2 linked regions of the Homo sapiens genome follow. The protein of the gene in region 2 purifies or fractionates together with the protein of the main gene of each other region. This does not show direct contact. Each region holds a gene or a part of one and is shown on either strand. Other genes may lie near its edges.

Evidence for each region. The genes of interacting proteins can lie anywhere in the genome.
Region 1: the proteins of ZNF483 (region 2) and ZYG11A purify together in Homo sapiens (affinity purification with mass spectrometry; 2 studies listed by BioGRID and IntAct, with this or other methods). This does not show direct contact.

What each region holds. Positions count from the first base shown.
Region 1 is NC_000001.11:52,859,607-52,863,359, reverse strand, and holds part of ZYG11A (protein zyg-11 homolog A), read right to left. Parts: intron 2,630-3,753; coding exon 2,489-2,629; intron 1-2,488. UniProt on the Homo sapiens protein: Probably acts as a target recruitment subunit in an E3 ubiquitin ligase complex ZYGA-CUL2-elongin BC.
Region 2 is NC_000009.12:111,549,026-111,552,778, reverse strand, and holds part of ZNF483 (zinc finger protein 483), read right to left. Parts: 3' UTR 3,007-3,753; coding exon of another isoform or gene 2,980-3,006; 3' UTR 1-2,979. UniProt on the Homo sapiens protein: May be involved in transcriptional regulation.

The sequences.
Region 1 (3,753 bases), on a different chromosome or scaffold from region 2:
GATAAATCCACCAACAGAGGAGAAGAATTTGAAAAATGGTAAAACAAAACATTAGGTAACTTGAAGCTACACTGTGGAAGACCTAGAACACAAATGTAAAATGAGGGCATTGTTCCAAGCTTAGACCCCACCTGCTCTGTCATTCAAGGACACTGTGATCTGTTTCCTCTACTAGAGACAGACCTGGGATATACTTCTGCTATGGAAAATGACTTTTTTTTTGTATATTGCTAAATTGATTTTTCAGTTTCATTAGATTGCCATCATCTGCAATTTAGAAATCCAGAAACCAAAAGAAATGTGATTTTCACAAAAACTACACAATCCTGGTATGAAAAGAAATTTAGAACATCTAAATTCAGCCTAGGCAACACAGTAAGACCTCATCTTTACAGAAAAAACAAAAAAAACAGCCAGGCATGGTGGGGCATGCCTATAGTTCCAGCTACTCAGGAGGCTGAGGCAGGAGGATCACTTGAGCCCAGGAGGTCAAGGCTGCAGTTGGCTGAGATCATATCATGCCACTGCACTCCAGCCTGGGCAACAGAGTGAGACCCTGTCTCAAAGAACAACAAAAACAAACAAAAACAGAAGAACATCTAATTCAATCTCTTCCTTACAGATGGAAAAAAAGGTCGAGAATTTTTAATTTATTTTATTTTTTTGAGTTGGGATCTCGCTCTGTTACCCAGGCTGGAGTATAGTGGCACCATCATAGCTTACTGTAGCAGCCTCAAACTCCTGGGCTTGCCGGGCGCAGTGGCTCACGCCTGTAATCCCAGCACTTTGGGAGGCCAATGCGGGCGGATCACGAGGTCAGGAAATCGAGACCATCCTGGCTAACACGGTGAAACCCCATCTCTACTAAAAAATACAAAAAAGTAGCTGGGCGTGGTGACGGGCGCCTGTAGTCCCAGCTACTTGGGAGGCTGAGGCAGGAGAATGGTGTGAACCCGGGAGGTGGAGCCTGCAGTGAGCGGAGATCAAGCCACCGCACTCCAGCCTAGGCGACAGAGCGAGACGCCGTCTCAAAAAAAAAAAAAAACCAAAAAAAAATCCTGGGCTCACGTAGTCCTCCAATCTCAGTCACCCAAGTAGCTGGGACTATAGGCATGTACAACCATGCCCACCTAACTTTTTTTTTGTTTTTTGAGACAGAGTCTTGCTCTGTCGCCCAGGCTGGAGTGCAGTGGTATCATCTCGGCTCACTGCAACCTCCACCTCCCAGGTTCAAGTGATTCTCCTGCCTCAGCCTCCTGAGTAGCTGGGATTACAGGCACCTGCCACCACGCCTGGCTAATTTTTGTATTTTTAGTAGAGACGGGGTTCTACCATGTTGGCCAGGCTGTTCAAATTCCTGACCTCAGGTGATCTGTCCACCTCAGCCTCCCAAAAAGTGCTGGGATTACAGGCGTGAGCCATGGTGCCCAGCCAGAAGCTAATTTTTTTTCTTTTTCTAAATTTTTGTAGAGACAGGGTCTTACTAATGTTGATCAGGCTAGTCTTGAACTCCTGGCCCCAGGAAATCCTCCCATCTCGGCCTCCCAACCAAAGTGGTGGGATTACAGGCATGAGCCACCACAGCTGACCCAGAGTTTTTCTTTATACAGCTTTTGAGCTGTAAATAAAGTTAATCTCCCATGCTGTAAAAATATTTTTTTTTGAGTCTCGCTCTGTCACCAGGAGGGAGTGCAATGGCACAATCTCGGCTCACTGCAACCTCCACCTCCCGAGTTCCAGCGATTCTCCTGCCTCAGTCTCCCAAGTAGCTGGGACTATAGGAGTGCGCCACCACGCCCACCAAATTTTTGTATTGTTTTTAGTGGAGACGGGGTTTCACCATGTTGGCCAGGATGGTCTCAATCTCTTGACCTCGTGATCCACCCGCTTCGGCCTCCCAAAGTGCTGGGAAAATATCCACATTTTTAAGGAATTGCAAAAAATTACAAATAAAGACAAGGTTTTTCTTAAGACCTTTCATTGTTATGTTTCACTAAAAACAACAATTTTCAAATAAACACATGTATAAAAGAAAAATAAATAACTGAAGTTTTCTTTCCCAAGCCTCTTAATACTTGTAATTACATTTACAATAAAACGCATCCTTCCCTAAACCAAAGCTAAGTTTGGCTATATCGATAAAAGCAACTTTATGTCATTCACAAAATACTTCAAGTGGTAGATTTGGCCACCCTTAATTATTTTTATTTTGTTCTGCACTTGTTTTCTTTCAGAAAGCCACATGATCCTATTATTCCCTTACTTAGACCAAATTTTAACTGTTTTGATTCTAATTTATTCCACATAAATCCAGATGCTCAAAGCAAAAGACACTTTGGCAGCTAAGCTTAACATTCTTTGCTCTATGAGAGCACTTGACTCACTATAGAATAAAGCATATAATTTATTATATTCAGTGTGGTTCGTGAACAATTATTAATTGAACCAAGTTAAGAAGTAATAGTAAAAATTGTCTTCCTTCAATTACCTTTAAAATAGCAGGCATGGTTACCTCCATTGAAAATGTCTCTGTGAACAGCCTGTGGAGGGCTTCCTTCACAAAACATGATCTGTTCCTGTATCGGCTCAGTGCTTCTGAAATCTGACTCATACTGGCTCCTCCAGCAACCTGAAAATAAAGATGTTACCAAACAGGTTTCACCATTCATATTTTTTCACCATTCATTTTTAACCACAGGGTTTTTGGGGCATCCAGTGTTTAAGACAATAACAACAAATGTTCAATTAAATGTTCCAGGTGTTGGCCAGGCGCAGTGGCTCACGCCTGTAATCCCAGCACTTTGTGAGGCTGAGGCAGGTGAATCACCCGAGGTCAGGAGTAGAGACCAGCCTGAACAATATGGTGAAACCCCATCTCTACTAAAATTACAAAAATTAGCCAGGCGTGGTGGCAGGCGCCTGTAGTCCCAGCTACATGACAAAATATGCTGAGAGAAAGTAAAGATCTAAATAAATGCAGAGATATACAGGATTCAAGAATCAGGAGACTAGCGCCAGGCGTGGTGGCTAATGCCTGTAATCCCAACACTTTGGGAGTCTGAGGCTCAAGGGTTGCTTGAGCCCAGGACTACGAGACCAGCCTGGACAACATAGTGAGACCTCGCCTCTATTTTTTAAAACAACATGAGACTCAACGTTATTAAACGGCAATTTTCCTCAAACTGACCTACAGATTTAATGCAATCCCAACTAAAATACCAGTAGTCCTTTTTGTAGATATTGACAAGTTGCTTTTATGATTTATATGGAAATACAAAGAACCTAGAATAACCAAAACAATTATGAAACAGAATAACAGTTGAAGAAGTCACATTACCCAATTTCAAGACTTCATATAAAGTTATAGTAATCAAGACAGTAGGCCGGGGCACAATGGCTCAGGCCTGTAATCCCAATACTTTGGGAGGCCAAAGTGGGCAGATCACCTGAGGTCAGGAGTTCAAGACCAGCCTGGCCAACATGGTAAATCCTCATCTCTACTAAAAGTACAAAAATTAGATGGGCGTGGTGGTGCACGCCTATAGTCCCAGCTACTAGGGAGGCTGAGCCAGGAGAATCACTTGAACCCGGGAGGCAGAGGTTGCAGTGAGCCGAGATCACACCACTGCACTCCAGCCTGGGTGACAGACCGAGACTCTGTCTCAAAAAAAAAAAAAAAAAAAAAAAAAAAAGGCAATACACAAACAGATAAAAATAAAGAGCCCAGCTGGGCGTGGTGGCTCACACCTGTAA
Region 2 (3,753 bases):
TAATTCAAATCTTGAAAAATTTCAAGTATTTTTCTTTAGCCTTAGATGAACTGTTTGATACAAGACACTGCCCAAAGAAAACTCTGGGTATATTCTGTCTCAAAGAACCTCCAAATTTACAATGTCGATTCATGTAAAGGCAATGAAATGTGAATTCATTGCCTAAAGGCTCAAACTCATGGCAGATATTTTTGACAATCTTCCATCTGTCAAAGAATTTCAGTTAGAGACAGAAAAGTTAGTTTCTATCACAAGGATGGAACTCCAGCTAAGTTAAGTCAAAAGACCATCCATGTTGGAATTTTAAAGCAAGAGGATAACTTTTCCCTCATTGCTCTATTCTATTGCATGATACATACTGAAAATATTTGTGTTCAATTTTCTGAAGCAGACTCCAAGAAACGAGTCACGGATACATGTGTTATAATTCTTCAGTACATATGCACAAAAGCTATAGAATGTTGACAGTTTATGAAACTTCTGAAAAAAAAAGACAATGTATCTAATGATCTTGTTTCTTTACCAATGTTACCTGGATGACTTACAAAAGAATTTTATAAGGATTTCCTGTACTAGAAAATCCAATTCAAGATTTCCTTGAAACAAAAGAAATGCTTACCAAATATTCAATCAAAGACAAAAAGTAGCACTGTGATTCACATTTTCTCCCTAATATCACGCTGCATATGAACAAGCTAAATTTGAAGCTCCTAAAATGGGAAAAACTTGTGACCTGGCTAGACAGGTAAAAGAATTTATTTACAATAGAAACATTTCATAATACAAATAAAACAGAATAACTCACATTTTTCAAATGAGACAATATGCACAAAATTTTAAATGTAATAAATGGCTGCAAAAAATAAGCAAAATCTGAAGAATGATATATTGTATTGATAAACTGTTTTGTTTCCATTTATGCACTGCTTCATCAAATTTGATGCTAATAAACTGAATTGATATGTTACTGAATTTACTTAAAAAGTTTTGAAAGTGATATAATTTTGCCTAGATATTAAATGAATTTTTCTAATAAAAGTTTTGTTAATGTGGATGCAAATTTTAAACAAAAATTGGGGTTGTGTGTGGCGGTTCACACCTGTAATCCCGGCACTTTGGGAGGCCGAGACAGGCAGATTGCCTGGGCTTAGGAGTTGGAGAACAGCCTGGGCAACACAGTGAAACCCCGCCTCTACTAAAATAATTAGCCAGGCGTGGCAGTGTGCACCAGTAATCTCAGCTACTGGGGAGGCTGAAGCAGGAGAATTGCTGGAACCCAGGAGGCGGAGGTTGCAGTGGACCAAGATTGCGCCACTGCACTCCAGCCTGGGCAACAGAGTGAGACTCCATCTCAAAAAAAAAAAAAAAAAAAAAAAAACAAAAACTGGATACTTGATTCAGTTATTGGAAAATTAAGTATATTTAGAACAACAACAAAGTATGTTTGGAAGAACTATGTGAATCTACTTATCAACTCTACGTTTTATAAATCTAAATGTGAGTTATGTATTACAAATGAAAATTTTGTGTGTAGATTAACACATTACATACCAGATTTCAAAAATAGTGCAAAAAACAAAATGTCTCAATACTTTTTTACATTGATTACATGATGAAATAATATTATGGATATATTGGGTGAAGTAAAATACATTTTTAATTTTACCTGTTTTATTTTCTAAAAGTGGCTACTAGAAAATTTGAAATTATGTATGTGGCTCACATTATATTACTGTTGGATGGTGCTGAAGTACCTAAAACACCTTCCAATCAGCTTTTTAGAGCCCTGCTCTTAAATATAAATAGTCAAAGATCATCAGAGGCTTCAGGAAAGCCTCCAGTGTGAGAGACAGAAAACAGGTGAAAACAACTCAAAGGAAACAGGGATAATGCAGGGAGCAGAATAACACAGAAAGACACTATAATTAACATGCTCAGAGAAAAAATATTTCACCTATGAAACAAAACCAATTAGAAAAAAGGAAGAAAGAATCAGATAATGCACTTGGAAATAAAAATATGACAGCAGAGATAAAAACATTCACAACATTTAATAGTAGAGCTGGAAGATAAAGTTGAAGAAATCTTCAAGAAAGCAGGAAAAATCAAAGACATGGATAGAGTGGCCCAGGAATCCACCTCTCCACCTAGATAATAATTACATCGGCAGAAAGTTCCTAAAGTGATTATTTTGGGAGCACATGAGTCCATCTGAACACTTGTAGCTTCTAGGGGAAATTCTGAGTGGTAAATTGCAGTTAACATTGGTGGATTTCAGCCTTCAGTGAAGTAGCAGCTACCCATCCCCACCCACTCCATGGCAGGCAGCTGTGGAGACACAACCCCACATTTCTGGGTCAGCTTGCTGCAGCCAGGGTGGACAATAATAGCCACTTCCTCCAAATATCAGGGTTCTGATTGCAGATATCTACTTCTGATCACAGAGAAAGAGCAGACAAAGAAGCAAGCTACCATTCTCCCAACCCCCAACTGGCTAAAGTGGCTTCCAGGAGAAAAAAGGGATGAAACCTGTTTTTCTGGACATTCAAAAAACTGTGTATCTAGGTGAATTCAGAAAGCCATTGCTCCCGCCCAGGGAAAAACGCAGGCTCTGTAAAGAATTGAGACAACTTTAGGCATTCAACACAGGCTGATCCCTAGCACAGAGACAGCCTATGACAGTAAAACAAAAACGAAAACAAAAAACACACAACACAAAAAACAACAACAAAAAATAAACCCTGGGGAAAAAGGAATAATCTTATTTCCAGAGTTGCCACATTATAAAATTCAAATGTCTAGCTGTCAACAAAAACAATCACGATGCATACAAAGAAACAAGTATTGACCATTCAAAGGCACAAAATAAACCAACAAAAAATGGACATGAGGAAGACCAAACATTGACTCACTAGACAGACTTTAAAGCAACTGCCTTAAAGATGCTCAAAGAGCTAAATGTTCTGATTGTGTTGACAGATCAAAAGAGAAAATGAAGAAGATTGAAGCTTCAAAGCAGAAAAATGAAGGGAATATGTATCATTCACCATTACCTTAGAAGGCAAGGGTCCACTTTACAAAAGGACTACAAACATTTAGAAAATCAATGGGGAACCCTGCTGCCGCTGCCACCACCACCACGACCGCTGCCCCAGAAGAGCTACAGGTAGGTTTAGCAAAGCTTGTAGATTATCGACCCACTCTGATAATCTACAAGGGAGACAGACCTGAGAACTCCAACCTGGAAGAACCTCTCAACATCAGACTTCATAAAAAAGACTCTGAGAGAAAGATACCTCACCAATTTCTCAGGGTGAAAAACACTTTGCTTGGAAATCACAACTTACTGAGCACCAAAAGATTCATTCAGCAGAGGAACCTCACATGTGTTGTGGCTTGAGAGAAGCTTTCTTAGTTCAGACCTTTATAGACACTAACATTTCCACACAAGGGAGAAACCCTAAAATGTGCTACATTTTATGAAAAGCATTTTGACAGTGTGTTTTCAGAATTGTAAGATATTTCTCCCCAGTGATCAAGAAATTCCTCATCTGATAAACTATTCCGAGGGGAAAACAAAAGAGCAAAACAAAATTAAATCTTTATTTATACACTCACACACACAGAGAACCTCCAGTGACTCAGTGACTCTCTATTGCACTGATAATAAAGCAATAAACCACTCTACAGAACTGGAAGGGTCTTTGTGGTGCAGGTTCTGAACTATGGCAACAAGCACTGCAATTGACTCCT